Regions from separate parts of the Homo sapiens genome. Here region 1 is linked to region 2. Evidence: fine-mapped expression QTL. Tissue or cell type: whole blood. Region 2 holds a variant in brackets; the other region holds the start of a gene. Each region is shown on its reference strand, or each on the opposite one.

What was found. PIP is the estimated chance that this variant, and not a neighbour inherited with it, causes the effect.
Region 1: it holds the start of KDM6A, and the variant in region 2 is the best candidate, but not a certain one, in a credible set for the expression of KDM6A in whole blood (TOPMed, PIP 0.88).

What each region holds. Positions count from the first base shown.
Region 1 is chrX:44,864,971-44,881,737 of GRCh38, forward strand. It overlaps KDM6A (lysine demethylase 6A), which reads left to right and starts at 8,218. Exons shown (of 30, transcript NM_001291415.2): 1 at 8,218-8,742; 2 at 8,954-9,017. The coding sequence starts at 8,582. It overlaps LOC105373190 (a long non-coding RNA gene), which reads left to right and starts at 1,893. Exons shown (of 3, transcript XR_949040.2): 1 at 1,893-1,911; 2 at 2,427-2,547; 3 at 5,244-5,333. RefSeq lists silencers at 7,408-7,907, 8,158-8,387, 8,728-8,987, 9,028-9,107, 9,118-9,217 and 1 more.
Region 2 is chr4:182,664,917-182,681,683 of GRCh38, forward strand. TENM3 (teneurin transmembrane protein 3) reads left to right here. Exons shown (of 28, transcript NM_001080477.4): 7 at 8,089-8,303; 8 at 14,750-14,960; 9 at 15,332-15,433; 10 at 15,627-15,821. Among named protein-coding and RNA genes, the nearest start is that of DCTD, 240 kb to the right of the region's middle. The variant T/C (reference allele first, on the strand shown) is at 7,058.

The sequences.
Region 1 (16,767 bases), not on the chromosome of region 2:
TTTATTTATTTATTTATTTATTTATTGAGACAGAGTTTTGCTCTTGTTGCCCAGGCTGGAGTGCAGTGGCACAATCTCGGCTGACTGCAACCTCTGCCTCCCGGGTTCAAGTGATTCTCCTGCCTCAGCCTCCAGAGTAGCTGGCACTACAGGAGCGTGCCACTACACCTGGCTAATTTTTGTATTTTTAGTAGAGACAGGGTTTCACCATATTGGCCAAGATGTTGTCCATCTCCTGACCTTGTGATCCGCCTGCCTCGGCCTCCCAAAGTGCTGGGGTTACAGGCATGAGCCACTGTGCCTGGCCTGCACTGGTAATTTTAAAAAGTCTCAGTGTTGTATGTAAGGCACTGGAAACACTGCCAAGTTGTAACAGTATCGTTGTGATTTGTAGGGAACCCAGCGGCAGGGCAAAATGATGTGAGTGCCATGTACATTTTCTGTTGCAACTATTCCATTCTATACTGTTGCACGAAAGCAGCCATAGATAATAGTTGAATAAGCATGACTGTGTTTCAATGAAACCTTTTTTATATGGAGACCAAAAACTGAATTTCATGTAGTTTTCATCTGAGATAAAATGGCTATATGAAAACAGGTAGTGGGCTGGATTTGACCTATAGAGTATAGTTTTCTGACGCTTGGTCTAGCAAAAGGGTCAGGCTGCCAGCCAGTTAGCCAGTATTCACTAAACTTGGTGCCAAGTGCAGAGCCCAGGTGAAAGCAAATCTGTTTACAGCAACAGCACTAACACCAAGAGCAACCCTACAATTATTATTTCTCTCTCTAAAATCTTTTAATAGTCCACTGTAAACTTTCGCATGATTCTTTAGCATTCCATTCTAGACTCTTCATGGTGCTGCCTAATTTTTCAGCCTCAACTCCTGATTTTTCCCTTATCCTCTTGGCCGCAACCACACTCAACTTCTTGAATTTATCAGAACTCCCATATTCTTAGCCTTCTGTGTGCTTGCAGGTATGTTGCTGCCTCTGCCTGGAATATAAACCTCCCTATACTCACTTTCCAGCTCCTACCAATCTATCTTTTTTTTTATTTTTTATTTTTTTGAGACGGAGTCTCGCTCTCGTCAACCAGGCTGGAGTGCAATGACGTGATCTCGGCTCACTGCAACCTCTGCCTCCCGGGTTCAAGCGATTCTCCTGCCTCCACCTCCCGAGCAGCTGGCGCCCGCCACCATGCCTGGCTAATTTTTGTATTTTTTTGTATTTTTATTTATTTTTTTTTATTTTGTAATTTTTTTGTATTTTTAGTAGAAACGGGGTTTCACCATGTTGGCCAGGCCAGTCTCAAACTCCTGACCTCAGGTGACCCACCAGCCTCAGCCTTCCAAAGTGCTGGGATTATAGGCGTGAGCCACTGCGCCTGGCCTATCTTCTAATCTCTAGGATACTTCCCTGGTCCCTCTAGGCTGACAAAGATGCCTCTTCTGTGTGCTCCCACAGAAATTTGGGCATAGGTCATGGCACTCATCACTCTGGATTATAGTATAGAATTTGTTTATACAACTCTCCAAGAAAGAGTAGCTTAATTACAAGGATGATGTGAATTTTGGACATTTTCAGCTATTATTTCTTGACGTACTTTTTTTGGCTATGCCTAATTTCTCCATTTCTCCTCTCCTTCTGTGACTTGATGACATAAGTGTTGTGTCTTTTGTTACAGTGCCACAGATCCTTGAGGCTCTATTTATTTATTTATTTTTCAGTCTATTCTCTCTCTGTTGTTCAGATTGGGTATGTCCTTTTTTTTTTTTTTTCTTTTTTTTTGAGACAGGTTCTCACTGTCACCCAGGCTGGAGTGCAATGGCCCAATCTCAACTCACTGCAACCTCTGCCTCCCGGGTTCAAGCGATTCTCCTGCGGCAGTCTCCTGAGTAGCTGGGATTACAGGTAGGTGCCACCATGCCCGGCTAATTTTTGTATTTTTAGTAGAGATGGGGTTTCACTATGTTGGCCAGGCTAGTCTTGAACTCCTGACCTCAGGTGATCTACCCGCCTTGGCCTCCCAGAGTGCTGGGTTTATAGGTGTGAGCCACCCTGCCCAGCCAGGTATTTCCTATTGTTCTGTCTTGAGGTTCATGGATTCTTTCCTCTGTTCCCACCATTCTGCTATTGAGCCCATATGTGAAGTTTATTTTGATCATTCTGTTTTTTTGTTCTAAAATTTTCGTTTGATTCCATGGGTGCAGTCTTTTGCTCCCCTATCAGCCACATGAGAATAGGCCTTGAGCCTGGAACACTTCCTTACCAAGGGATGGAGAGTTCTCACAGCCTGTACTAGACTTGTTACCTTGTGTGGGAATATCTGTCTTTGTTTCAGACTCAATGTGTGCTCCTTTGTTCTGCTTAAATATATGTGTCACGTGGCATCTGGGCCACACCACTAGTATATCTGTCCACTGCAGGGAGAGGATGAGATCTTTCTGCTGCAGCACAAGAGGAGTGTGTTGGCTGTTGGAGGGACCTGTTGGCCAGGGAGAACTAATGTCCACTACTGAAGCCGATCTTGCTGTGTGTCTTCTCTATGTGAGTAAAGTTATTCTACCCGGGGCTTGACTGAATTGTATTTTCCTTGGAGATCCTGGTACCAAGATGCAGTGGGCAGAAGTGCTTGGACATCTCCTCCTGACAATAGGGCCACAGATGCCACTTGCTCAACAATACTTTGTGTCTTTTTTTTTTTTTCTGAAACTTCTTCTTGCTCTTCTGAGGCCTTCTAGTTTTTTAGTTGTTTGTTTGCTATTATTTTTATTTTATTTTATTTTTTTTTTGAGACAGAATCTCAATCTGTAGTCTAGGCTGGAGTGCAATGGCGCGATCTTGGCTCACTGCAACCTCCGCCTCCCAGATTTAAGCAATTCTCCTGCCTCAGCCTCCCAAGTAGTAGCTGGGATTACAGGAGTGCGCTATCATGCGCAGCTAATTTTTGTATTTTTAGTAGAGACAGGGATTTACCATGTTGGCCAGGCTGGTCTCAATCTCCTGACCTCGGGTGATCCTTCTGCCTGGCCTCCCAAATTGCTGGGATTACAGGCGTGAGCCTCCATGCCTAGCCCTTGTTAGATAATTTAAACATGTGATTCACTTTAGTGTTTGCATCTGTTGACCTTTTCTCATTTGAAATTATCCTGGGTCTTGCTATGATGAGTAATTTTTTTATTGAAACCTGGATATTTTGGGCAGTGTTCTGAGACTCTAGATTTTTTTTTTTTTTTTTTTTTTTTGAGACAGAGCTTCACTCTGTTGCCCAGGCTGGAGTGCAATGGCACAGTCTTGGCTCACTGCAACCTCCGCCTCCGGGGTTCAAGCAATTCTCCTGCCTCAGCCTCCCAAGTAGCTGGGATTATAGGCATGTGCCACCATGCCCAGCTAATTTTTTTTGTATTCAGTAGAGATGAGGTTTTGTCATGTTGGTCAGGCTGGACTCCACCTCCTGACCTCAGCTGATCCACCCGCCTTCGCCTCCCAAAGTGCTGGGATTACAGGCATGAGCCACTGCGCCCGGCCAAGACTCTAGATCTTATTTAAATCTTGTATTTTAGCAGGCCTCCTCTGACATTGCTCTAGTGGGGGCAAAGGGGGCATTCTCTTGTTACTGCCAGGTGTGGGTGGAAGTCCAGCTTTCCCCCTCAATCTTGGTTGACAATGAGTGCAATGTCTCCTTGTTACTGCTTTGTGGGGATGGGAGTTCTCGCTCCCTACCAGGCCTAGATTGAGGCCTCCATTCACCCTAGCTGGGCAGTATAGGAGTCCCTCATTATTGTTCCCTACATTGCTCCCCCTCCACTGATACAATGGGGGGGGTGGTAGTATACCACTGGGCAGTGATGAAAGTTTTGACGACTCTGACATTAATTCAGCAGGGATGGGTACTGACCCCTCACAACTGCTGGGTGGAAGTCCAGGCTGCCTAGTGCAGTTGTGTGTGTGTGTTGGCGGGGGTGGGATGTGAGGTGCCTCATTACAGCCTGGTGAAGGTAGGAGTCCAGGCATCTTCTAGCAGTCCTAACTCTATTCTCACAACTGAAGTTTTCATAACAACTGAAAGTCCATTTATCCTTGGCTCCCTGTCTCTGCTCAAACCTAACCATATATCTATTTCTGTCATTTTTGTGTTCTGGCATCAGCTGGATAGTCTCTATGACAGTGGTAAGTATGGGAAGAACTGGTAAATTTTTTTGAACCTATGTTTGATCGTAACATTTACGTATAGTTCTATTGATAAGACTAGATAAACTATGACTCTGTTATGTGACTTTTTATTATCTGTAAAGGTTATATGGCACTAACATTATAAACACACTAAATATTCCTAAGTGCTTCAGGTTAAATATTTCGTTGTTTAAAAGAAAGTCACATTATTTTCCTATACTTAAATGGGTTCCTTCTCTAATTAGTTGATGGTACTTACATAAATATTAACATAATATTGCTACAAATTATGTACTTAGTCTGTAATCTGACTTAGCTAGATTTTATATAATTTTATAATATTGATTTATCTATACATATATTAGTCGTATTAATTTGCTAAATTCAGATTAAACTTTCCCCAGCTCCTGGTGTATTTAGAATTATGAAAAAGAATCAGTACTAAGTGATATAAGGATGAATGTTCTATTTTCTTTTTTTTTCTGAGATGGAGTCTTGCTCTGTTGCCGAGGCTGGAGTACAATGGCATGATCTTGGCTCACTGCAACCTCTGCTTCCCAGGTTCAAGCGATTCTCCTGCGTGAGCCTCCCAAGTAGCTGGGATTACAGGCATGTGCCACCATGCTTGGCTAAGTTTTGCATTTTTTTAGTAGAGATAGGGTTTCACCATGTTGGCCAGGCTGGTCTGGAGCTACTGACCTCAGGTGATCTGCCCACCTCAGCCTCCCAAAGTGCTGATATTACAGGCGTGAGCCACCGCACCCGGCTTATAAGGCCGAAGTTTAGAATAAATGAGAGATGTAGCAATACTGGGGTTATATGCCTCAAGTATAAAGTACTTAGGACTGCTTATGTGTTGGGCTTATAGTGAGGTTGTGGAGGGAGAAGGAGGAAGTGATGGGTAGAGTAATAATAAATTTAGAACCCAGATTGTGAAAGCAAGAAAAAATTTTGGAAATTCCAGCCTTCCTATTTTATTGAGATTTTTGAATCTATGTGTCTGGCACTTTACCTACCTTATGGCATCTAAAATAATGTTATAAAGTGGCTGTATTTTCTCTTTTTCACAGATGAGAGAACTGAAGCTCAAATTAGACTAACTTGTTGAAGTCTGCCTAGCTATCAAGTGGTAAAGGTAGGATCTGAACCTAGAGCTGTATGATTCCACAATTCATGCTCCTTTGGCTGCACTACTCTGCCTTCCGGTGGGGTTTTCAGATTCACTTTTCATGGAAATTTATTATAAAATCATTTATTGTATGTCCCTATTTCTCTCTCCAGTGAAATATGTAAACCTTATAGGCTCTATATCTATTTTACATACATTTGACAGATAACACACTATGTAACATGTGTATGATGTAAGGACTTATGTTACCATATGAAATTTGTCCCATGCTTGATGATAGATCCTTGTAGTTGTAATAGACATAGAGCACTGGCCTAGAGGATAGGTAATGTTCTCAAGGTCGCACAGCCTGTGTAGAGCAAGGATTCGAATCCAGGTCTGCCTCACTCCAACTCCCACCCATTGCATCCACTCCTTGCTGTTCTGCTATTACATAGTAATAGCGGGAAGAAAAGTGTTGAGGTGTGGAGAGTGGGTAGCCTTTTTTTTCTGAGACGGAGTCTCGCTCTGTCACCCAGGCTGGAGTGCAGTGGCGCGATCTCGGCTCACTGCAAGCTCCGCGCCATTCTCCTGCCTCAGCCTCCCGAGTAGCTGGGACTACAGGCGCCCACTACCACGCCCGGCTAATTTTTTGTATTTTTAGTAGAGACGGGGTTTCACCGTGGTCTCCATCTCCCGACCTCGTGATCCACCTGCCTCGGCCTCCCAAAGTGCTGGGATTACAGGCGTGAGCCAAAGCGCCTGGCTGCCTTTTTTTTTTTTTTTTTTTTTGAGACAGAGCCTCACTCTGTCCCCAGGTTGGAGTGCAGAGGTGCAATCATGGCTCACTGCAACCTCCACCTCCCGGGTTCAAGCGATTCTTCTGCCTCAGTCTCCCGAGTAGCTGGGACTACAGGCGAGCGCCACATGCTCGACTAATTTTGTTTTTTGTATTTTTAGTAGAGGTGGGGTTTCACCACATTGGCCAGGCTGCTCTCCAACTCCTGACCTCGTGATCCGCCCGCCTCGGCCTCCCTTTGCAGGCGTGAGCCACAGAGCCCGGCCGGGATTGAGTAGCCTTATAATCCTTGAAAAGGACCTGAGTCAGGAACTGCTAACTTCAGGGAGATAGTCAAATACCAGCAAAATGTCTATCTGTGCTTGTGCAAGTGTGTGTGTATGTGTGTGTGTGTGTGTGTGTGTATGAGAGAGTGTGCGAGCGAGTTACTGGGGTCAAAATTTCCTTGGCTTTAAATGTCACCATTTGTGACAAAGTTAACAATGTATTAATTTAGCCGTAGAAAAGATTTGGCCCTTTGTACACACTCATTCAAGCAAAATGGAGTATCATAAAGGGAAAGGTGTTTCAGAGGAAGTAATTAAACATGAACTATAATCTATACAAAACTACAGTTTGTTCGTCTAGTTACTAGTCTCAGGGGAACAATTTAAAACTGTGTGCAAAATCAGTTGGGATTCCCATAGCTTCCCGCTGAATACTGGTAGGAATTACTGGGTCAGCACTGAATTGTCTTCGTCATATTTTGAAATCCAAGTTTAAATATATAATTTTTATTGGTTACAGGTGGAAAACCTATTGAAAATATAAAAAACTCCGTTTATAAACAGAATCTTGTCCTTATATGTCTATCAATTTTTTCCTATCCCTGTTATAAGACATACAGCTTAGTAAATAAATTTGCCTTTTGAGAAGAGTAGTCGAAAGGCCTATTTTTTTTTCACCTATAGTAAAGATTAAAAGTCAGACTAAAGCCTTTCCCCTGCACCTGAGAGACAGAACAACAAAATGTTACTGTTGTCTAGGGGTTACAAACCTGCAGGTTTTGGGGGATAGAAAGGATTTCTTGGGCCACCAGCTGTGATGATTTAATTATGTCTTCTCTCAGGTCTGTCCACAAGCAGCCCCTACTTTTGTAAGAAGGCTCCACTGAAATCATGGCAATAGAACCCAACATTCTGCAGATCCCGCTTCACAATTTCTCATTGCTTTTTCTTGTAAGACTGTAATGAACTACTGATAAGACACAGGGTAAACACAGCACGAAAATCTGGCCCCAAAGTGCCGCCAACAGACAGACCTTTGGCGGTGGGGAGCCATGGTCGGCAAGCCAGGCCCCGCGGGCGACTCTTCATTCCCTCCGGCCTGGGGCGTATGGGCGGGGGTCAGGGGAGCCCTTCCCCCTTCACTTTCGGCGCGGGTGAGGTGATCGGGGCTGCCAGCGCAGGTCTGGCCTAGGGCGGCACCCGGACCGCGGGGCACGGGACCGGCAGCCGCTCCCCGAGCGCCCTCCTCGCGGAGGCCATTATTTCCAGCAGTGCCAAAAGTCTGAGCCTTCTTCGGAGGGCAGAGGTCGAGGGCCGTGCGCCGCCTCCCGGCTACGCGACCTGTACCAGGCCCTGTGGGGTCCCGGGACCCCTGGAGCGCGCGCGGGACGGCCGGAGCCGCGGTCTGGGCACATCCCAGAGCTCGCGGGCAGGCAAATGCCGTCCTTGGCGTCTTCGCCCGCCGCTCGCGCCCGCCGCGGGCGGTGCCGGACCTCGCCCTTCCCCACCACTCCCCTCCCCCTCCAGAGCCCGCCGCGGTTCCCGAGGTGACACGGCCCGGACCCTCCATTCTCTGCCCCAGTGTATTTAACCAGCACAACCTAACAGGAAGCTCCCTCTCGGTGACAACCCTTCCCCCGACAGACGCGCCCAGCAGCCAACCACCGGCTAGAATTGGCCTGCGTCCCGCTCCCATCTCGGTGGCGGCCTCGGTGGGCGGGGCTCGGGCAGCTAGCAAGTTAAGTGGAGCCACGGCTGACGTGAGTCAACAAAGGTCACGTGAGGCGTGCGGGCCGCGCCGATTGGTGGCGCCAGCCGGGCGGGGAGGGGGGGTCACGGCGGCGGCGTGGGGTTCGCTGTGTGACACAATTACAACAACTTTGTGCTGGTGCCGGGGAAGTTTGTGTCTCCAACGAATCCCCTCAGTGCTCCCCAGCCCCGCGCGCTCCGGCCGTTCCCGCCGTCCCCGCCTGTGGCTGCCCCCTGCCCAACCCCGCGATGTGACCCTACAGCCGAAAGCCGCCGCTGCCGACCCGGGGGCTCCGCAGCCCCTGCCGCCGCCGCCGCCGCCTTCACCGCCGCCGCGTTGGGATTTTTCGTCGCCGCCGCCCGCGGCGGAGGAGGAGGCGGCGATAAAGTTGGTGTGCTGGTCCCGCGCGCAGATTGGGGGCGTCACTGCGGGCCCCGGTCCGAGGGGGGGTGTCGGCGTTGGAGTTGTGAATTCGCTGCGTTTCCATGAAATCCTGCGGAGTGTCGCTCGCTACCGCCGCCGCTGCCGCCGCCGCTTTCGGTGATGAGGAAAAGAAAATGGCGGCGGGAAAAGCGAGCGGCGAGAGCGAGGAGGCGTCCCCCAGCCTGACAGCCGAGGAGAGGGAGGCGCTCGGCGGACTGGACAGGTACGGGCCGCCGTCACTCGCCCGGTCGGCTCCGGACGGGCAGTAGCCGCTCTCCCGGGAGGACCGAGCGCGGCTTGTCTCTGGCGGCGGCGGGGCGGGCACCTCGGTTTGGCGCTCTTCGCGCCGCCTCCGCTGGGGCCTCGGGCTCGGGCAGGGACGGGTCGGTGGCGTTCCCTGAGCGTTAACGAGTAAACTGTGTCTGTCTCCACAGCCGCCTCTTTGGGTTCGTGAGATTTCATGAAGATGGCGCCAGGACGAAGGCCCTACTGGGCAAGGTAAGGCAGCTGCGAGTCGGAGCGCGGACACCGTCTCCCTGGCCGGCGCCGCGCTCGCCCCGGGCCCCGCGGCCGGGTCTGTGCTCATTGTGGCCACGGACGATGGTCGAGGGGCTTCCGGAAACTATTTCCTGCCTCTGCTCTCCCCCCACCCCCGGGTACCCTGCTTGCTCCCTTGCGAAATCGCTCTTTTCCTCTTGTAGCTGGAGGAACAGAGACGGGATCGCTTTGGGGCCGGGCTCAACTGGGTCGACACAACTGCCTGCTATTTTACAGCTTTTTGAGGGTAGGCCGATGATCTTCGAGGTGCCTGTTTAGGGTCAAGGGATCGTGAGTGTGTTCAGATTTTCCCAAATTTCGGACTTAACTTGCCTCTACGGGTTTAAAAAAATTCTTTTCCTTCAAGCAGGCTGTTCGTGATGCCTACTGCTAACCAAATGTTTTAGGCTTTCTTGTGTCCCCGCTCCCAGAAGGGGGAAGTTTCACGGAGTTTAGGTCGGTGAAGAGTTTGCATTGGGCTGTTGACATGTATCTCGATTGCAGTGTGTGTTACCTGAAGTTAGGTGACTTGTTTACTTTTTGGGTCTTTTTGGCATAGAAATACCGTAGTTATTTGTAAACGTGTTCTCTTCCTGGAGCCTCATTTCCTGTGTGTCTGACAGGGGAGGCTGGGGAGGATTCGGGGTGTAGTCTTTTTTTATTTGTGTGGAAAGTTGTTGGCACTGTCATTTAGTTAAGTAATGGCTGCTCCTATCGGCCCAAGATGGCGGGACAGGGTGGGAGGAGAAAGTGAAGGGGGGGGTTAGGGGGAGGGTGTAGAGGTAAACATGGAAATAAATAGTAGCCGTGAATAAGCCTTTCCTTCGGAGTGTGTAGCTCAGTGGTGTTTAAAAAAAATTACCCAAGATTATTTGCATATAGAATTCTTATACCTTTCATAAGCTTGGAAGCAGCATGCATAAGCCTGGTAAATGCTTATCAACCTGTAGCACATTTAGTTATCCATCTGTAAGCTATTGAACAAAGGCTGGAGTCTCAATCTGTATGCATCAGTTTATATTTCCTGACCAAAATCTGATTGCAATGGTATTTGAATACTTTCTTCGTAATTGGGACCGTGAAAGTTGGAGTGTGTGCTATGGGTGTTGTATCCGTTAGACATTTTCTTTTCTAGCTGAAATCATAGCTTTGCATTTGACACCTAGCTTTATTGTTGCAGTTGAGACGCAAGTTTGAAATAAGTCTAACATTTTATTCTTAAGTTGATTTTTTTGTTGTTCTGAATTTTTGTCTGTAGCTTGGTTTCGCAGAGTCATCAATTCCTTTTTATCTGTAATTACACATTTGTTTTTATTTCAAAGTAATTATAAGGTGTTATATTGCATATAATCAGAAAACTAAATGGAAATAATGCTTTTCAGTAAGCCCGGCCCCTTTGACCGATACAGAAAACTTGAATTAAACTTTGACTACGTAGGTATTAATTGGCTTCATTACAATTATTGCTGTAAAAATGAACAGTGACTAGCTCTGGAAAGATTTAAGCGTCAGTAATTGTTGGTCTCCTGCCTTAAAGTTTTTTTTTTTTTTTCCAATTTGAGTATTTAAAGTATTTTATTTAAAAATATTTGACTGCTGTCAAAGTTGTCATTATAAAAGATTAAACATGATTTAAATTAAAAGAGCATTATTTTGTTTTGGAGGGATTATTGTTGGTCTAACATGGGTTAATAAAATTGCTTGCAAAGATAATTCACGTGGAAAAGTTTGGCCAAATCGATTGCTTTTGGTTATGGTGATGAAAAAATAAATGGAATCTGATGTTTTATGTTGAGAATGTGTAAAATGCTAGTTGATTTTATGTCTTAGAATGCTCATATTCATATAGATTCACTGCGAATAGTGCTTAACATTGGATTTCGGATTGTAATATTAAACCCTGCAGTTATGCACTAACGAGTTTAAATTTTAAAAAAGTAACCATTTTCAAATATTCTTGGCAAGTTGTGCATTACTTGATGTTTGAATACATCTTAAAAATGAAAAACTAGTGAAGCTTCACTATGTTTGGGGCCTTCATGATATATGGGGTAATTTGATGAACGATTAAGCAGTTTGTTAAACTAAAGAAAAAAAAATCTTCACTGCTTCAGACTCAGTGCTTGTGAGGTGTCCTACCTGCTTAGGACAAGATTCATCAGCCTTAACATTAAAATAAAACCTTCTGTAATATGTGCTTGCAACCGCATATAGTTCTTGGTTGCATCTTTGTGAGCCTGAACATACCAGTGGGGTGTGTAATGTAAAGCCTGACATTATATAACTTCGCACCCTCTGTTTGAATTGGGTTCTGAATGAAGTGAATGAGCTGGAGTCCTGCTGTAGGAAGTCTTGAATTATTTAGTTTCATCCTTCTTTTAACAGTCCTCGAAGCAGTATTTTTTTGTTTTTTATTTTTATTTTTTGTGGAATGTTGAGCTATGTTGGTTTCAGAATTCTTATTCCCTGAAAGTCTTAAGAGTTGGCTTTCCTTTACTGGGCAGGTTTAGGCTACTTACCTGAGGGCAGATAATGGAATTGAATAACTCCCAGAATTCCCTTTTTAGCTTTGATTTTTGTCCTGCCATGCCCCCCCACCCCCAACCCCCCGGCCCCAATTTAGTCTGCACTTTGTATAACGTTTTCCTTTCTGGCAGAAATTTAGCTATTACTACTTGTTTTCAAAAATTCTTATTCCTATGTATATTATTGGATTTTCTTTCAAGTTTTTAAAATTCACATTTGTATGTTAAAAAAAACTCTTGACCTAAAAGCTTTAGAAAGTTGAAAGCATTAAATATGTCTCTTACTTGTCCCTTAACATATGTACGTATACATATATACACACGTGTACATATACATATATACACACGTATACATATACGTATACACACATATACATATACGCATATACACACGTATACGTATATACGCACGTATATGAATACGTATATACACGTATACGCATACGTATATACACACGTATACGTGTATACATATATACATGTATATACATACGTATGTATATGCGTATACACATATATGTATATATATGCATATGCGTATGTATACGTATGTACATATCTATATGTGTATTCCTTTTCCAGGTGTGCAGTTTATTCAAACCACTGATTTCTCATCGTCTCCCGAATGTTTTTGTCAGATTCAGTTATATTAGAGTCATTGAAAGAATTTTTTGTTTGTAGGATGGCCATTTGATATACAATGCCTGGGGTTTTGGATTAAAAAAATAAGGTAGTTAATACAATGTATTATTTTTTGGTAATGTCTTTAAGGTTGTAAACAGCTAGAGCCTGCGTAATTAGAGTTCTTGTGATATAGGGTGATCTTGAACAGTGCTCTTGAATGCTGACCCTTAATCTTCTGGTAATGTAATAATTCAAGATTCTTATTTTTAAAATTTCAGTGGAGTTATCGAAAACTAAGCAAAATATTTTAACAGAAATTAACTTGTGACTTTTTTAGTACATTTTTGAAAACCTTTTGGGTTTTTTTTTTTTTAAGTAGGGTAAGGATTTGAGTTAAAGTAGAATATATACGAATATATACCATAAATGTAGTAAGTTTAAATATAGTAGTACTACCAAGTATAGTTATAGTAATAATGCTAGGGGACTGGGGAATCTTATCTGCGTCAGGGAACTATTGCTAAAATACACAGTTTTGAACAAAGTATCTTATTTTTAAGTTTTTCTTAAATACTCTTATTGGAAATTTTTTTGGTAATTCTATTAGTAGAAAGATTATACAAAATACTTAGAAGTTATAGATTGTATATCACTTAAAAATGTATGTGCTTTTTTCCGTAGGACATATTAGCATTAAAACAGTTGGTGTTTTAAATTTTTTTGATAATAGAAGTAGTTTAAGATCCATTGAAACATATTTTCTTAAATTTGGTTTGCTGGCGTGTTTGGTAGGGGAAATTATTAGGTCAGTTCTAGAGGTGGCTTTTTTAAATTGTAATATTTGGATGTTGATTAAAAACATTCTCATTTATGTGTGTTTTTTGTTTGCTGGCACTTAAAGGCATACAGGTTGAGTATCCTTTATCCAAAATGCTTGGAACCAGATGTGTTTTGGATTTGGGATTTTTTTGGGTTTCAGAATATTTGCAGAATACATACCAGTTGAGCATCCCTAATCTGAAAATCTGAATTCCAAAATGCTCCAATGAGCATTTCCTTTGAGTGTCATGTTGGTACCCAAAAAGTTTTAGATTTTGGATTTTCAGATTAGGGATGCTCAACCTGTAAATTCATTTCCAGTGCTAAAGATGGCTAGTGTTTTGGTTAGAAAAGTCATGAGAGCCTGTCTCAAAAAACAAAAACAAACAAAAAAAGAAAGTAGCCATGGAAATAATGTCATGCTTTGTGTTTTAAAGAGTTTTCTAGTTTGGAAGATTGTCTTCTGAACACTTGCAGTCTTAATTTTTTACGTGGACAAAGTCTTATATACTTGGTATTTCCTAAAGTTTTGATTTGTGCCTGGTAATAAAGATATACTAAGATTATAGAACATATTTGCATATTTGGTCACAAATTAGAACTGCAGCAATACATAAACAGGCACTTTTAAAGTTCTGGTTTTCTTTTTCAGTAAATAGTTCTTTCTGTCGAATCAATTACAAATTGAAATAACTAGAGAGCATTTGACTGCCACCTCTAGATACTTTTTGTTTTTTTTTTTAATTTGAGACAGTCTCACACTATCCCCCAGGCTGGAGTGCAGTAGAGTGATCTCGGCTCACTGCAACCTCGGTCTTCCAGGTTCAAGTGATTCTTATGCCTCAGCCTCTTGCGTAGCTGGGATTACAGGTGCCTGCCACCACACCCGGCTAATTTTTGTGTTTTTATTAGAGGTGGGGTTTCACCGTGTTGGCCAGACTGGTCTCAAACTCCTGACCTCACGTGATCAGCCCACCATGGCCTCCTAAAGTGCTGGCTTTGCAGGTGTGAGCCGCCGCACCTGGCCAATATCTTAAGCTGTTAAGAAAAACTGCCTGAGAGATGAATTTTTGTGACTTAGGTGAAGTGATAGGTCATGCACTTTAAACCAAAATGAAAGTTCATTGCTTGGCTAGCTGCAGAGTAAGTCTTTTTCTGACTTAAATTATGTAACATTTAGTTTTTGTTTACATAGTACCAATATTCTGCATCTTTGAAAGGATTTCTGTTAAGTTTATTTTTACTTTGAAATTCATTGTGATGCGTTGAACTCTTTGAAATTGATGTTAATGACTGCTAACACTGCATTATTAATAATATTTTTGAAATGTGTTATCTAGAGAGCTAATTTATGTTAAGAAAACACTACCAGCTTGTCTAAGAATTGAAATGGTGGTTAGGCTGTTTAGGACTCACATGTATTATTTGTAGATTAGTTAATTAATAAAGTTTATTTAATGAATGCATAATTGACAGTCTTAAGTACTCATATTGAAACTTCACATATAATTTTATCAGTTTTCCACATTGGTTTGTAAATTATCGTGACAGTAAATTAAAACAGTATATTAATGTACACTATGTGCAAGCCTTCTATGTAGATAGTATGAAGATAGCATAGATATTTCTTGCCCGTGTTGAACTTAAATTCTTTAAGAGGGGTGAGATAAGTTTAAGGGTGACTAACACAGGACCATCTTTGGGAGAAGAAAAATGTGAAATATTCTGAAAGTTTATGAGAAAGGTAAATTTAACAATTCACAAGTTAGAATGGCTCTTAAAGATGGGGATTGTTTGTTGATTGTGTTTCTTGGAGATGGTATTTCTTGATTTAGATGTTAGCAAGGCATCTTATAATTTTGTTTAGGAAAACATGATTTAAAAATCACATTTTAAGGCTGGGTGTGGTGGCTCACACCTGTAGTCCCAGCACTTTGGGAGGCTGAGGTGGGCGGATCACTTGAGGTCAGGAGTTTGAGACCAGCCTGACCAATATGGTGAAACCACGTCTCTACTAAAAATATAAAAATTAGCCGGGCGTGGTGGCGTGCACCTGTAGTCCCAGCTACTTGGGAGGCTGAGACAGGAGAATTGCTTGAACCTGGGAGGCAGAGGTTGCAGTGAGCTGAGATGGTGCCACTGCACTCCAGCCTGGGCGACAGAGCGAGACTTCATCTCAAAAAAAAAAAAAAAAAATCACATTTTAGCTTTTAGCAGATGTTCAAAGGATGATCTGCTGTGTGTTCTGTCCTTCTTTGATTTCATTTTGTAGTAATATTTACCTTGTTATGAGTTCTTAACTTGAGATTCTTAAATGAGTGTTCATGGGTCAATTTAAATTCTCTGACAGAGTTTGGAAGGACACTCAGGATGACTTAATGGTCATCTTGGAGTACAAGACACTTTTGGGGTGAGAAGGAGGGGAGATTTTAAACTGTTTTATAGATTTCTGTACTGCTTTTTTTTTTTTTTTTAACACCGTAGACATATATTACCTTAAAAATAATACAATAAGGCCAGGCGTGGTGGCTCGTGCCTGTAATCCCAGCACTTTGGGAGACTGAGGCGGATGGATCAACTGAGGTCAGGAGTTCGAGACCAGCCTGGCCAAAGTGGCAAAACCTCATCTCCACTAAAAACACAAAAAATTAGCCAGGCGTGGTGGTGGGCGCCTGTAATCCCAGCTACTTGGGAGGCTGAGGCAGGAGAATTGTTTGAACCAAGGAGGCGGAGGTTGCAGTGAGCCGAGATCGCGCCACTGCACTCCAGCCTGGGCAACAGAGCATGTCTCCATCTCAAACAAACAAACAAAAAAAAGTACTCTGATAGTACACCAGAATGTTATATTTTGGTTGACTAAAAATGGGTTTAAACTACCATGTCTATAGTTAGAAGAGATACTTGTAAAGGCCTTTCTTGCATTTTAATTACAGTCTGAAGTTGGGATACTTTTGAACTTGATGTTCCTTCAGTGAGGGTAGGAGTGAATGGAGTAGAGATGTACCCAATTAGGTCCTATTTCTTTGTGTTTTAGATGGCTTTGTGACAGTCACTGCGCTCATTCTTCATTTTGATCTTTAGCATTTCATTGCTGACTTTATTTTGAGTCTGATTTGGCACAGGCTGATACTTGGGACCTGATTAAGAACTGTAACCTGGGCCGGGCGCGGTGGCGCATGCCTGTAATCCCAGCACTTTGGGAGGCCGAGGCGGGCATCACGAGGTCAGGAGCTCGAGACCAGCCTGGCTAACATGGTGAAACCCCGTCTCTACTAAAAATACAAAAATTATCTGGGTGTGATGGCGCGTACCTGTAATCCCAGCTACTCGAGAGGCTGAGGCAGGAGAATATTGCTTGAACCCAGGAGATGGAGATTGCAGTGAGCCGAGATCGTGCCACTGAACTCCAGCCTGGCGACAGAGCAAGACACCATCTCAAAAACAAAAAACAACAAAAAAACTGTCACCTGGAAGGGTGGGAGTAATCCCTTGTTAGACAGTTTTAGGTTTCTGAGCTAATTTGTAGACTGCTTGCAACTTTCTTCTATAAGCTTTTATTATTTTTTCTCTTACCTATTTCTTCCTTATATTCCATCATTTGTTTACTTCTGTATATTATTAAAACTGTTGGTGGTGTTCCATTGTGAATGTATTCTTGTATGCTTTTTGTAATTTTCTCTGTGGTACTATTTTGTCTTTTTTTTTTTTTTGAGATGGCATTTCACTTTTGTTGCCCAGGCTGC
Region 2 (16,767 bases):
CTGCAACATAAAAATGCAAGGTGAAGCAGCAGGTTCTGATGTATAAGCTGCAGCAAGTTATCCAGAAGATCTAGCTAAGATCACTGATGAATGTAGCTACACTAAACAGATTTTCAATGTAGATGAAAGAGCCTTAGACTGGAAGAAGATGCCATCTAGGGTTTTCATAGCTAGAGAGGAGAAGTCAAGGCCTGGCTTCAAAGCTTCCAGGGACAGGCTGACTCTGTTAGTGATGCAGCTGGTGACTTGAAGTTAAAGCCAATGCTTATTGACCATTCCTAGAATCCTAGGGCCCTTAAGAATTATGCTAATTCTACTCTGCCTGTGCTCTATAAATGGAACAACAAAGCCTGGATGACAGCACATCTGTTTACAACGTGGCTACTAAATATTTTAAGCCCACTGTTGAGACCTACTGCTCAGAGAAAAAGATTGCTTTCAAAATATTACTTCTCATTGACAATGTACCTAGTCCCCCAAGAGCTCTGATGGAGATGTGCGAGGAGGTTAATGTTTTCATGCCTGCAAACACAACATCCACTCTGCAGCCCATGGATCAAGGAGTAATTTCAAGTCATATTTAATTTAATTTCAACTTTCAAGTCGTATTTAAGAAGTACATTTTGTAAGGCTATCATAGATAGATAGTGATTTTCCTGTGATAGATCTGGGCAAAATCAATTAAAAACCTCCTGGAGGCTGGGCACGGTGGCTCACACCTGTAATCCCAGCACATTGGGAGGCTGAGGCGGGCGGATCACGAGGTCAGGAGATCGAGACCATCCTGGTTAACAGGGTGAAACCCCGTCTCTACAAAAAATACAAAAAATTTAGCCGGACATGGTGGCGGGCACCTGTAGTCCCAGCTACTCAGGAGGCTGAGGCAGGAGAATGGCATGAACCCGGGAGGCGGAGGTTGCAGTGAGCCAAGATGGCGCCACTGCACTCCAGCCTGGGCGACAGACAGAGACTCTGTCTCAAAAAAAAATAACACCTTCTGGAAAGGATTTAGCATTCTAGATGCTATTAAGAACATTTATGATTCATGGGAAGAGGTCAAAAGACTAACATTAGCAAGAGTTTGGAACTTAATTCCAACATTCATAGATGACTTTGAGGGTTCACACTTCAATGGCGGAAGTAACTGCAGATCTGGTGGAAATAGCAAGAAAACTAGAATTAGAAGTAGAGCCTGAAGATGTGACAATTGCTGCAATCTCATCATGAAACTTTAATGGACGAGGAGTTGTTCTTATGGATGAGCAAAGAAAGTGGGTATTTGAGATGGAATTTACTCCTGATGAAGAAGCTATGAACATTGTTGAAATAACAACAAAGGATTTAGACTATCATAAACTTAGTAGATAAAGCAGTGGCAAGGTTTGAGAGGGTTGACTCCGATTCTGAAAGATGTTCTACTGTGGGTAAAAAGATATCAAATAGCATCCCATCCTTCAGAGAAACCTTTCATGAAAAGAGTCAATCAATGTGGCAAACTTAATTATTGTCTTATTTTAAGAAATTGCCACAGACACTCCAACCTTCAGCAACCACCACCTTGATCAATCAGCTGCCGCCTACACTGAGGTAAGATCCTCCACCAGCAAAAAGATGATGACTTGATCAGATGATCGGTAGCATTTTTTAGCAATAAAATTTTTTAAATTAAGTTTGTACGTTGGTTTGTAGAAACCTATTGGCTGGGCACAGTGGCTCATGCCTGCAATCCCAGCACTTTGGGTGGCCGAGGCTGGTGGATCGCTTGAGTCCAAGAGTTTTAGACCAGCCTAGACGACATGTTGAAACCCTGTCTCTACAAAAAATACCAAAAAATTAGCCAGACTCGGTGGTGTGCACCTGTAGTCCCAGGCACTTGGGAAGCTGAGGTAGGAGGATCACCTGAGCCCAGGGAGATTGAGGCTGCAGTGAGCCGAGATTGGGCCACTGCACTCCAGCCTGGGTGACAGCTTTTGAGACCCTGTCTCAAAAAAAAAAGGAAATAATGCTATTGCACACTTAGTAGACTGCAGTATAGTGTAAACATAACTTTTATATGCACTGGTAAACCAAAAAATGTGTGTACCTCACTTTATTGTGATATCTGCTTTATTGTGGTGGTCTGGAACAAAATGTGCAATAGGTATGCCTGTATATGCTTTAAATGTGTCTATTTCATTAGCTCATTTAATTTATGGGAAATAGCCACCATATAATTTAACTGTCAGAGCCAGTACTCATTGAAATCAAAGTTACCATTTTTTTGTTTTGTTTTGTTTTGTTTTGTTTTGTTTTGAGATGGAGTCTTGCTCTGTTGCCCAGGCTAGAGTGCAGTGGTGTGATCTCGGCTCATTGTAACCTCCACCTCCCAGGTTCAAGTGATTCTCCTGCCTCAGCCTCCCAAGTAGCTGGGATTACAGGCGCCCGCCACCACACCCAGCTAATTTTTGTATTTTTAGTAGAGACAGGATTTCACCATCTTGGCCGGGCTGGTCTCGAACTCCTGACCTTGTGATCCACCTGCCTCAGTCTCCCAAAGTGCTGGGATTACAGGTGTGAGCCACCACACCTGGCCCAAATTTACCTTTTGTCAGAAAAAGTCTGACTTATTTTTTCAGTTCGAATAAATTAATCTACATTTTGTTAGAACCTCTCAGTTCTGAATCCCTGCTCTAGGTAGAGAGGTAGCAAGATAAAGCACAAATCCTTGTCCTAACCTTGACAACGGGAATAAATAAAGCATCATTACATTTCATGTTTCTTACCTTATTGCTGTGTTCTTGGTAGTCATGAAATTCTTCTGCAGTTGAAAAGCATTCTTTGTAGAACACTTGGACACAGGAAGGGGAACATCACACACCGGGGTCACACACCGGGGCCTATCATGGGGTGGGGGGAGTGGGGAGGGATAGCATTAGGAGATATACCTAATGTAAATGATGAGTTAATGGGTGCAGCACACCAATATGGCGCATGTATACATATGTAACAAACCTGCACGTTTTGCACGTGTACCCTAGAACTTAAAGTATAATAAATACATAAATACATTAATTAATTAATTAATTAATTAAAAAGAAAAGCATTCTTTGACAGTAGTTGGGGTGAGTGATAAGTTCATTAAAAAGGTTATCTCTCTTTCTTGATGTATTTGACTTCAAAGCATGCTAGTAGTCCTAAATACCCCATTGTTAACCCCACATTTTGCCCTTAATGGAACTATGTTAAGCAGGGAAAGTCGCTGAAGCCCTACCTTGGGTTTATGGTGTCTTCAATAAAAGAGGCTTCACCACCACAATACTTTTAATTTTGCCTTTTTTTGGCATACTGGAAGTTTTATGCTCCAAGACAATAAGTCATAGTAATATTTGGGTATGTGAGAGGTACGCCTTTCTTTTGTAAAGAAAGTCAACACATGAATGTTATTGAGGGTCTATTAATAGAAATTAATCTCCTACCCCGTTCCTTATTGAAAAGTTTTAATGTTTCCTAGGGATATGGCTACCCTTTTTTAAAGACCCCTGGACTAGATGACCCCCACGGGTACTAGAACTCGAAGATTCTGTGGTGTTATGATTAATTAGGTATTTTTTCGTTACGGGAGGAAAAAAATCATCACAATTGCTATCCCATTCAAGCACACTCCACCAATCTTGGATCTTTTGTTTTACAAATGAAGAACCCTCTTTTTCTGGAAAAGAACCACTGGTTAAATTACCTATATATGGGACTAACAGGATAAATAGATATACTTCGCGACACAACGATGTATTCACATATCATTTCTGTGAGAAAGATTTTAACCCCTCAAAATTAATTTGTGGAGAAAGAAACAAGGCAAGAATACCTAGCTTATTAAATGCCTTTGACATAGTGAAACCGGAAACCCTAGAAATCAGAACTTGGTTACCATTACCACAGCTAATCCTCTTGGGTAAACATAATGTTTTGGAAAAAAATTCTGAAATTGGCACCAGTTTATGAATTTATGTTTACCAGTTCTCAAAGCACAGGTATGCTATTAAAACTCAGAAAACCATTAATAGCAGCAATAGGGTCAACCCAAGAGAGTAGATTAAATTACATATGCTTCGGATAGTAGATGAAACTTGTTAATGACAATCAAGTATCATAGCCTTAGAAATGTATGAACTTGATGAATGAGTCTACATATAAACTATGTTCATATTAAAATATGATATGTATACTGACATCTTAGAGGGGAAGAGAACAGCTACTCTACTCAGTACTTTAAAATTAGTTTCATGTAGAAGTCAACCAAAAGACAAAAACTTATGAGGAACTTATGAATTATAACATAAAGAGTATTATATTATAATATCCATGTCACGTTTTTTTTGTTTTTGTTTTTGTGAGATGGAGTCTCACTCTGTTGCCCAGGCTGGAGTGCAGTGGCGCGATCTCGGCTCACTGCAAGCTCCGCCTCCCAGGTTCACGCCATTCTCCTGCCTCAGCCTCCCGAGTAGCTGGGACTACAGGCGCCCGCCACCACACCGGGCTAATTTTTTTGTATTCTTAGTAGAGACGGGGTTTCACTGTGTTATCCAGGATGGTCTCAATCTCCTGACCTCGTGATCCGCCCTCCTCAGCCTCCCAAATTGCTAGGATTACAGGCGTGAGCCACCACACCCGGCCTTCCATGTCAGTTTTTTAAGTTTTATCAATATAAAACTTATAAAAATAAGTATAAACTTTATGTCCTGACATTGTAAGTATATTCTCTAGGGTGGTTCAGTGACTTAATATATCTGATTTTATATGAAATAGACAAATTTAAAACTTAGTAATTTAAAATAATATTTTTGTTTTAATAAAAAGCAAAGATTTTATTGAGGATTATATACAACAGATGGTTTTGGAATTCTGCAGACCTTGATTTCAGTCTTGATGCCATCACTGACTTTGGCCACATCATTTACTTCTCTGAGCCTTAGTTTCCTCATCTCAAAATGATACCAACCTCTTGGGTGAAACTACCTGTCATATTGTAGGTTCTCAGTGAAGATTAGTTCCATTTCTCTCTCCCCTGAATCTTCTCAGTAAAAGCTCCTTCATGACAAATGTAGGTTCCTTTGCAGAAGCTTCCTAAATGAAAAGTAGAAATTGGTCTCAGATAATTAAAAATTTCTGAGTAAAGCAAGACGTCTGTTTAGCTAGAAAGCAAAATAATCTCTGGGTGGTAGCATTATACATATTTTTTCTCTCTTTATTTAACTGTATGTTCTAATTTTGCTGAAATGAACAAGTATTACTATTGTAAAATAAATACTTTGAATCCTATGAATGATCTACAGTTTATAATCTAAGAGTTGATGTGTGGAAAAATTATAGTGATTACTATAACTCAATTTGGAAATTTTATTCCTTAGATCCTTTTATATTACTGAATTGGTTCAAGAAAAATAGACCTGATAGCTACCATGATTGTGAACACTGGGAAAGAAGAGAGGAAGGGAGATTATAAATAATGCCTTTTTATTGAGTTTTCTAGTACAACCCTCTTCTGCCTCATACCTGGGTTATTGCAGCTGTGTCCTCACTCATCTCTTCATGTCCAGGCTTCCCACAGTTACTGCACAGTAATGCTCTTGAAACAGTGATTTCATTTCACCTCTAGCCCGCTCAGAACCTTTAATGGGTCTCCATTTAGTTATAGCTGTCCTTCACAACTGATGGTACGTGTGTCATGTAGGATGCAGTAGTCCAGATGGAAAGCAATTCTAACATTTGCTAGTGATGTACTCTCCCTCAAACCTCACATTTATCTGTAAGTGTGAATTTTTTGTGAATTGCTTCAGATCCTATAGGCCATAAACTGGGTCTGTGATTGCAGGTCATGTTCCGTAGTAATCTTCAATTCTGTTTCTCTTGATTATATACACACACCCCACCACCACACAAGAATAAGTGTGTTTGAGGCATCGAAATGCAATTTACCCATAATCAGTCTTCAAGTATCTGTTTGAAAAACATACCATAAATGACATGCACAGTAACAGAATACTAGTAAATATATACATCTTCAGGGAAAAGGGTGTAATAACACTCTTGATAGAGTGAAAATACAAGAAATCACTAGCATAAAGTATAAAGACCATATTCTTTAACCTGGTATTCAAGGCCCTCCACAGACAGATGCCACGTCCCTTCCCAACCTTATCCCGCATCCCTCCCACGACAAACCCATTCAGTACCTCCTGAGAGCCAGACGCTGCAGCTTGCCCTTGATGCACCAAACCTCATGGAATCCTTGTAACGGTGCAATCATTATGTTACTCTCCCCATTTTCTAAATGAGGTTTAGTATCTTCCTTAAGGTCACACAGCTAATTGTTGGCAGAGCCAGGATTCAAACCCAGGTTTGTCTGACTCCAAAACGGGTTTTCTTTATCTTGTTTTCTGGCCAGATGGATTTCTCTGCTGAGCCTCAACCTAACACCTGTCAAGTTCCACGGCCATGCTTGTGATAGCGATGTTTATCCCAGCTCAGAAACCTTATCCTACCTGTTCCTCAATGTTTACCACCAAACTTAACTCCTGTGAAATCTCTCAACCTCCAGCCTGCAGTGATAGTGCCTTTCTCTGACCCCTACTCATATGTTGCTTTAGGGTCTCACTTAATTTATCAGTTTGTGGGTGTTGTCTCCCCACCCAGGTAATTACTACTTGATAGCAGAAGCTATGGAAGTCTAGATAATCTCTAAGATTCTACTCTTTGGTTTATATTTCTTTTTTTAAGTCACCTACAGTGCTGCCGCTAGCAGACACTCAGTAAAAATGAACTCAGAGTTAAACTAATAACTCTTCACAGATAGTTAGAAGCCTGTCTCCCTTATCACTGAGATGAGATAGCTTACAGCTCAGACTTAAAATCACTTCCTCTGCGTTTTGAATTAACAGTTTAATATTTTTTTTAAAAAAGACAAAGTTGGTAGTAAGTCAACTTTGTTATCAGTTTTTTTTTAAGAGACGAGGTCTCACTGTGTTGCCCAGGCTGGACTTTAACTCCTGCGCTCAAGTGATCCTCACTCCTCACCCTC[T/C]TGTTGTTATCAGTGTAAAAGGGCTGAATTGATAGAAGATAATTTGCCCAGTTCCATTCTGTTCCTCAGCCTTCTGGACCCGTCTGCATAAGAGACAATGTAGTTATATTTCCACTCACGGCAAATTGCAGAAATTCTACCATGACCCCCATCAGAATAACTGAGAAAGAACCTTGGCAAAGAGGGAAAAGAGGAACATCGTACCAAAAAGAGGAGTCTTGGATCTGTTTTCTAGAAGGAGGCCATGCAGGAAGAGAAGAGATGGTGTCTCTTAACAGGTGGCAGAGATCCAGGGAGAAAAGAGGTTTTGTTCCTATGCATCAAAGATCAGTGTGGTCAGAAGTAACACAGTATGTCCACTAAGACTACAAGTGAGTTTGAAATGAGGCTCAAAAGAAAGAGGAAAAGTTATAACAGCCTACACAAAAGCTATGTGAGCACTTAAGCTTACCCCTCCTTCCTTTCCCCTCACAATGCCCCAAGTACCCCTTCTCTATCTCTCTGCCAACATCTGATGTTTTTCATTCATCCTAGTATATCATTTAGATAGAACCACATGAATCCGAGCCATCAGTTGGTTTTATTGTTTGCTTAAGGATTGATTTAGAAATCTCCATAATCCATTCTGCCTTAATTTACACTTTGCAGTGTTATAGTATGTTTAGAATGACTGATAAGTACCAGACCCTAATCTCTCCCAAGAAATAACAAGACTCATAATTTGTAAGATAATTATGTTTCAAGTGAACAGAAAGACTGTAGGTGTGAAAACAGCTTTAGTAATGGGCATACCTTGGGGGAAGTCAAAAGGATTTTAACTTAAATATCTTACGAGCTAAATCAGAATTAGTAAAACACCAGTATCTAATAGTAGAAGCTTTTAAAGTGCAAATTTTATGAAAGTAATATATCAGAAGATGAAATGGCTTGAGCATTTGGTAAAAATAACTTTTTCAAAAAGTTTAAAAACCTTTTTTGTTTTGTTTTTTTAAAAAAAATTTGTTCTTCATCAGTGCATCTCTTACATTCAGGAAAATTAGGTGGATTTACGCAAGAAAATAACACCATAGATTCCGGAGAACTTGATATTGGCCGAAGAGCAATTCAAGAGATTCCTCCCGGGATCTTCTGGAGATCACAGCTCTTCATTGATCAGCCACAGTTTCTTAAATTCAATATCTCTCTTCAGAAGGATGCATTGATTGGAGTATATGGCCGGAAAGGCTTACCGCCTTCCCATACTCAGGTAAGACTAGGCTTTCTTATCAATAAAATAAAAACTGCCAGTTGCATTTTTTGAAATTATTCTCTTTCTTAAGCTCAGCTGTTTGGTTAACTGTTTGACGACTTTTGAATCGACTTTCTACAGTAGAAAGAGTTTTGAATGTAGATTACTTGTTCTGAGGTTTTTGAATCAGTAGTGGGAAGAACAATATTTTCTTCCTGATTTGACTGTTTAAAATGTACTGAATTTTGTGAGGAACTTAATGAATATTGAGCATCATCTGAGCACCCAGTAAAACACCATGGATTTTCCAAGTGTTTTACAAAGATTCTATGATAATTTCCGATGATCTTATTCCTTTCATGTAATAGATGCATAACATATTCATCTCTAACACGTATTCATTCTGTTGAAAATGTATTTTTTTAGTTTATGCCAGATTTCCTCTTAGTAGAGAAATGATGGGAACATCAACATAAATATGATGACATGAGCTTTATCAACTCAGGCGCCGTGCCTCATCTAAAATGATCAACGCTGAGATGAAGAGGCAAGAGAGCTTTCAGAGATAACCAAGTATGATCATGTCAGTGTGGTACACAAGACAATTCACATATCCTTAATATCAAAGAACTTTAAAGTCGTTTCCCTTGCATAAAAATCCCCTCACAACAGCAATCACAGATGGAGAACTGCTGGCAATTCCACAGCCTTTTTCATAATCTAATACAGTACCGGGTCATAGTATGTAAACTGGAAATTGTCGCTTAATATAGGTTTCATCATCTCTAAGAGAAGTTATTTAAATTACCTACCATAAAATTGGAACTGAGACTTTCCCCAAGATCAACTATTACGTTAGTACATAGAGGAATATCAAAAATGTAAGAGTTGATTCATTAAAATTGACAGTAGGATGAGCCTAAAGTTATATTCAATAATCAGTTTATTTACCTAGAGAATTTCATGCTGATTTAGTGTGACTTATAAAATAAGGGCTGGAGAGTTTTCATGTATGCTTTATATCATATAATTTTGTGAGAAATATTTTTTCTATAACCTAGGAACATAAATTATGAAGAAAAGTTATCACATATTAATAAAGAAATTATATCTTTAAAGGAAGATGAGTAAGAAGATTTCAACATGCTTTTTCTAATGTAATTGTGGATTTAGTTCATATACATATATTAATTTTATGGCTGTGAAATTTCTGAATATCAGGCTTTAGTGTATTCATTTTTCCTATTTAATATTTTTAATATCTATATTATTAAAGTAAATTTGATCCTTATGCATTGTATACTTCTTATAATGTACTAATGCCCAATTTTAAATTTTATATTTTTGTTTGTTTGTTGGGGTTTTGGTTTTTGTTTGTTTTGTTTTTTGTTTGAGACAGGGTCTCACTCCGTCTTCCAGGCTGGAGTGCAATGGCACAATCTTACCTCACTGTAGCCTCAACCTCCTCGGCTCAGGTGATCCTTCCACCCCAGCCTCCTGGGTAGCTGGGACTACAGATGCGTGTCACCGCCCCCGGCTAATTTTTGTATTTTTTGTAGAGATGTGGTTTCACCATGTTGCCCAGGCTGCTCTTGAACTCCTGGGCTCAAGCAATCCGCCCACCTTCCCAAAGGACTGGGATTACAGGCATGAGCCACCGCGTCTGGGCTATTTTATTTTATTTTATTGTTTGAGATGGAGTTTTGCTCTTGTTGCCCAGGCTGGAGTGCGATGGCATGATCTCGGCTCGCCACAACCTCCGCCTCCCGGGTTCAAGTGATTCTCCAGCCTCAGCCTCCTGAGTAGCTGGGATTACAGGCGTGCACCACTATGCCCAGCTAATTTTGTATTTTTAGTAGACATAGGTTTTCTCCATGTTGGTCAGGCTGGTCCCGAACTCCCAACCTCAGGTGATCTGCCCTCCTCGGCCTCCCAAAGTGCTGGGATTACAGGCGTGAGCCACCGCACCCAGCCAGTCTAGACCATTTTAAAGTTTAGATTTGACTCCAGTTCATCTTATAGGTGACACTGACTAGGATATAATAACCAGATTTTCTTAAGGCTAGGCACAGTGACTTAGGCCTGTAATCCCAGCACCAGGAGGCCAAGGTGGGTGGATCACTTAAGGTCAGGAGTTCAAGACCGGCCTGACCAACATGGTGAAACCCCATCTCTACTAAAAATACAAAATTAGCCGAACGTGGTAGCGCACACCTGTAATCCCAGCTACTCAGGAGGCTGAGGCAGGAGAATTGCTTGAACCCTGGAGGCAAAGATTGCAGTAAGTGAGAGATCGTGACATTGCACTCCAGCCTGGACGACAGGAGCAAAACTCTGTCTAGGAGAAAAAAAAAAAAAGCAGATTTTCTTAAGTGGAAGTCCTCTATAACTTCAATTATAGTAGACAGATTGGATTTATAGCAATTGTCCAGTGAAATATGAAAAAATATTTTCCCACTGAAACCGCATATGTGATTATTTGTGTATAATTCAAGAAATATACCTCTAAGCTGAGCACAATAGTAAACATGTAACTTACAAATTCTAGAAAATAATTTCAGGTAAGAATTGTCTATTGTGTTGTGTACTTGAAAGGTTTATTTAAAGATTTAGTTGACTGCAAGTTGTATATAACATTTAAGATTAGAGAAATGAAAGGTGCAGTTTCGGGTTTTCTCATAATCCTTCTAGTATTTAAACACAATACATGTGATATCCTCTTTTCTTTTCTACCACAATATATGTGTTTAAGTAGGTTATGCATTTTCTTAAGCTTCACGGTTATTATAGTTTCTTCCTGTGGTTTATTCAAGATCAGCAGAGCAAACAACTGTTTCTGAGTTCAGTGTTTAAACATGAAATATTGTATAAGGCAGCCCAAATTGAACATTTCTCTGTTTCTGGAGAACATTAAATAAATCAACCTGAAATAATTAAAATTGGCCAGCCATTCAGAATAGTTGCTTGAGCTTTCGCAGTCTTTGTGACCCTTTGTAAAACTGCCCGTTTGATTGTTGCCAAGGAATCAGTGGGCTCTCTTCTCCCTGATGCCAGTTCATTCTCCTGGTCAGTTAGTGGCCTCAGGAGTCAATGCAGAGCCTTATGGTGAAGTATACTGTAGCATTTTAGTGCATTCACATGAAGGCTGTTGTCGAATAGGAGTTGGAAGCCTGAGTTCTAGCATACCCTCACCACCTTTTCACTGTGTGACCTTGCAGAGTCCCTTCTCTGAGCCTTAGTGTCCATTGGTAAAATGAAAGAGTTGGATCAGATGATCTGTAAAATCTCTTTAGTCTCTATATTCCAATTACAGCAAGACTGTGCCACTACCAAAGAGTTGATGTAAGGACACAGTTAAGTATTCATAGATTCTAAGAACTCATCGTTTTAGTAACGGAATTGAATTAAACATATAATCTAACTTCAGAAGTGAACTACCAAGATAACTGAAACAAAATCTATTTGTTTTTAAATGGTCTATTAGATAATCAGCATAAATACAACAAACATGGGCAAACTTTTCTTCTATTGATTTTCCAAAAGACGGCTTATTAATACATTGTAGTTTAAAGCAACTTTAAATGAGGATTTTTAAAGCGTGTATATTTGGTAATATTAAATCGTAAGAAAATGACCTTTAAACGGAGCTTTCACACTAAAATTATCTCACTTTATATGAAACCTGTATCAAGTATAAGCTTTGTCTCACGATGGCTCCCGCGGACTAGTGCAATTGAAGAGTTAGCCCCAAGAATTTCTTCCTAAAAAGAGCATAAGGTCCTAAGACTCCTCTTCTCCCCAAAAATATATCTGCATCTCCATCTTAGAAATATTACAAAGCAAAACTCACATTTGCCCTTAAGTGACCACTTTATGCCCTAAGAACAAAGATTATTAAGTATTTTTATTCCTTGTAATTTGGTAATTTTGGGCAAAGATGGTTTTAGTGTTAAAGTAGGGAACTTTTTTTAGGTATTTGAATCGCCCTCCTGAATTCATGTGCGAAACACTTCTGCAGATGAGCCTAGAACTGGGTAGATACTCAAAACCTGTCAGCTCCTCCTCCCCACCATCATGCCCACTACCCTGGCCTTATTTTATTGTTCACAGTGTGATGCGAATGGTTATTTCTATGATAAAGGTGATGGTTGTGCTTTTGCCTTGAAAGACCAGCTAAAACTCAAAATTCCTCCCGTTCACTTTTTCAGTTACCGTGTTTAATGTTAGGGAAGAAAAATGTTTATATGCTTCGGTCATAAAAAGAAACTTTTTCTTGTCTCTTTGCCATGCAAATGTGTAAATATTTAAACCTGATGAGGAAATGAATGGCTTATTTGAGACAGAGTCACCATTCAAAACTGCTGAATTAATTTTCCTCTGACAATTCTAGAATAGAATTCCAGTCAAATTTTATAGGTCATGTATCCACACCAGTCAGTATTTTCATCCTTATAAGGTATAAATGAAAATAAACATTTTTGACTGCTGATCAGGTTATACTGTTTTTATATATTTCTCACAGCTGAATTCTGTTCTGATGAAACTACACAAAAGAACAAAAAAAGGTTTTACTTATAAATAAAAATTTTAGTAAGTCAGAAACTGAATTAGATACTCTAAGTTCTCTCCAATATTAACAGTAGAGGTCTATGGTCAGTAAAATGGCAATATATTTAACTGTGATTCTCAGAAATTCCAACAACTGATTTTATTCCAGTTTGATTGGATTAAGAGATTCATATAATCTTTTTCTTAAATAGGCCTCTGATGAAATTCCATTTAAGAAACCTATCAGAAAGTAGAATATTTATGATTTATATATGCAGTAGTATAATAATAATTATTTATATATAGTACTATGGCATATGTTTCACCATAAACACACTTCAGGAATAGAATGAAACTAGGTAACATTCTATAGACACTGAATCACTCTACTTTTAACAATTGTAATCTAAAAAACTCCTTGAAACTACATTGGAAAGTCTTTTCAGTGTCTTTCAAATTCCCTGTATTATTTCTAGTTACAAAATTTTACCCCACTATATTAACAATCACATTTTATACTTTTAATTCTTTTTTAAACTCTCCAGTCACCAATGTTCATGTCTAATTTTACTACAACAAAACTTAGGTTTAATGATGACCCATTCATAAGAATAATCAGGCACGTTTACTGTTACTGCCATCCTTTCAGAACCCCTCCATTGTTTAACTGTTTAGATCAAAGATGTAAAGGCATCTTGTTACATGTTTCTAATCTAACAATAACTAAGTAAAGCCCATGGCGTTCTCCATGGTGCTTGAGATGGTCACATCAGGGTCACAAGAGAGGTGGAGTAGGGTGGGAGGAATGACCCCACTTGGAGCAAAGTGCTCTTGAGTTCACAAGCCAACCCCACCATTACCAGATGTCTGAGAGCCTGCTACCCTCCTCAAGATTCAGATTCCTTCACCTGTAAAGTGCAAATGTTAAAGCCTTCCTACGAGGGTTCCTATGAGGAACCAGCACGGAGTAAGGATTCAACAGTAGTTGTTGCTACATGAATGTTAAATCAGAGAAGACTGTACAGGGTTATCTTGTGGTCTAACTAAAACAAGGTTGCTGGCAACATGGATGGAACTGGAGCTCATTGTGTGAAGTGAAATAAGCCAGGCACAGAAAGTCAAATACTGCATGTTCTTGCTTATATGTGGGAGCTAAAAAAGTGAATGAGCAGAAAGAGGAGAATGATGGTTCTCAGCAAACTAACACAAGAACAGAAAACCAAACGCCGCATGTTCTCACTCATAAGTGGGAGTTGAACAGTGAGGACACATGGACACAGGGAGGGGAACATCACCCCAGGGCCTGTCAGGGTGTCAGGGGCTAGGGGAGGGATAGCATTAGGAGAAATACCTAATGTAGATGATGGATTGATGGGTGCAGCAAACCACCATGGCACGTGTATACCTATGTAACAAACCAGCACATTCTGCACATGTACCCCAGAACTTAAAATAAAATTTAAAAAAAAGAAAGAGTAGAATGATGGATACCAGAGGCCGGGAGGGCACTCAAAATACGTACGACTATTATATATCAATTATGAATTTAATGCATTAAAAATAAGCCTGCTGGATTGGAAATGTCAGTTCATGTAGATTTTATGTTTGTATCCCCAAACTGCCTAAACTCATCAAACTTTTGATCAGTCAGTAGAATTAAATAAATTTGGAAACCATATTGCCCAATAAGGGAAAAAAATGGTCCCTGATGTTTGAATCCAGCCCTGTGTGGCGAATAGTTTGCGTCCTCCTTGTAAATGCTATGCATGGGAGACTTCTACCATTTGGACCTGTCAGGAACTTCTTTCTAACATTGTATTTGTTAGAGCAAAGGAAGACAGATTGAAGAGAAAAAAAAAAAGAGAGAAGCAGCCACCCTTTATCTTTCTGACTATTTTTCCTCGTCCTCCCCCCAGTATGACTTCGTGGAGCTCCTGGATGGCAGCAGGCTGATTGCCAGAGAGCAGCGGAGCCTGCTTGAGACGGAGAGAGCCGGGCGGCAGGCGAGATCCGTCAGCCTTCATGAGGCCGGCTTTATCCAGTACTTGGATTCTGGAATCTGGCATCTGGCTTTTTATAATGATGGGAAAAATGCAGAGCAGGTGTCTTTTAATACCATTGTTATAGGTAAGAATAGTCTTCAAAGCAGCATTTTCCAGGCTATAGCCTAAACGCCGTGTTTAATAAAAACTAAATTATCTGTACCAATTTGGGGTAATTCCTAGGGTGTTAAAGCCCAGGTAAAATGTGAGAATTATTTTTAAACCTTTATTTGGGAATATGTGACAAACTGTGAAGCACTGGGAGAAAATATTTTCTGGAATTACCTTGGGAGAGGAGAATATGTCATGAAACACTTTGAAAATCTGCATTTGAAGTGACAGTGCTTTGCTTTACTACTCAAATTATCTAGCATAAATGAAGATCAAAGTGATACCGTTTATCTTTTGCAAGAGGCAGGCTATACAACAAGTGTTCCTTCTTTCCTTTTTCTTCAGAGTCTGTGGTGGAATGTCCCCGAAATTGCCATGGAAATGGAGAATGCGTTTCTGGAACTTGCCATTGTTTTCCAGGATTTCTGGGTCCGGATTGTTCAAGAGGTATGCAAGTTAGATTCTTCTCTTAAGCCGATATAAATAAGCTGTAGAAACACAAGTGATTCCAAAAACTACCGAGACAGGAAAGAAAGGGGGGGGGAGACTGGCATATTGCTTGTTCCAGCGATGTGTCTTTTCTTTCGGAAGCTCGGTGGAAAGTGTGGCTGTAATTCTTCTGTCGTGTCTTGTTTCACAGCCGCCTGTCCAGTGTTATGTAGTGGCAACGGGCAGTACTCCAAGGGCCGCTGCCTGTGTTTCAGCGGCTGGAAGGGCACCGAGTGTGATGTGCCGACTACCCAGTGTATTGACCCACAGTGTGGGGGTCGTGGGATTTGTATCATGGGCTCTTGTGCTTGCAACTCAGGATACAAAGGAGAAAGTTGTGAAGAAGGTAAACATGTCAATATTCACAGAAGTCTGTTGTTATCTTCATAAAGAAACAGATTGTATCTGTAATCTTTAGTTGGGCAGATCTCTTTTATACGCTTCCTTTTGAAAGCAATTTTGAAAAATCCATGTTTATGAATGCATTGTTTTACTAACATTTTAACTAATAAAAAGAACAAGCACCAAAGGGCCCCTTTGCTCTTTTTCAGCACTGTGAATCATTCCTTTTCTTCACTCTGAGAAAGCAAGCAAACCTTTATGCCTTGAAACTAACAGCGGACGGTTGATTTTATTTTTCTTTTTATAGTTTTTTACATTGATGCCAGCTTCTAAATCTAGCATTTTGACATCTCTAGAAAGACAGAGTAGTACACATAATATGCTACCTAAAAGAAGTATGACATCATGGATGTGTTCCATAGCTGTATACGTATAATGATGAGAGTCGAGATACCATACTGTAAAGTGCAGGTGAATTGTTTTTTCAGAAAGCAAAAAAGCACCATTTCCATTCTTCAATCAAATTGATTTTATTGATCTGCACACACAAAGTAATGCAATTAAGTCTCTGGAATTAAATTTTCAGGCCATTGACCCTACAAGTGTAAAGTTTTATTGAGTCAAATTGCTAAATTAAATCTCGTCATCTAAAGCACATTGAAGTGAATTAAGAAGGATAGAGAGTATGCAACTCATTTATTTCTCAAACAGTGTGAGGATCCCATACAGCTGTCAGTACTCAGTGGTCACAGATTTTGTTATAGAGAAGGCAATACTTATTACTCTGTGATTAGGCAGAACAGAGAGCAATAGTCTGAAACCTCAAGAGCCTGTGTGTGTAATTCAGGAAAATTACAAATCCTTGCAAGAGTCTCAATTACCTAAATGGCATTAGGCTGGATCTTAATGCTTTATTGTATTATAATTCTTTGCATTTTCAGAAACAAGTT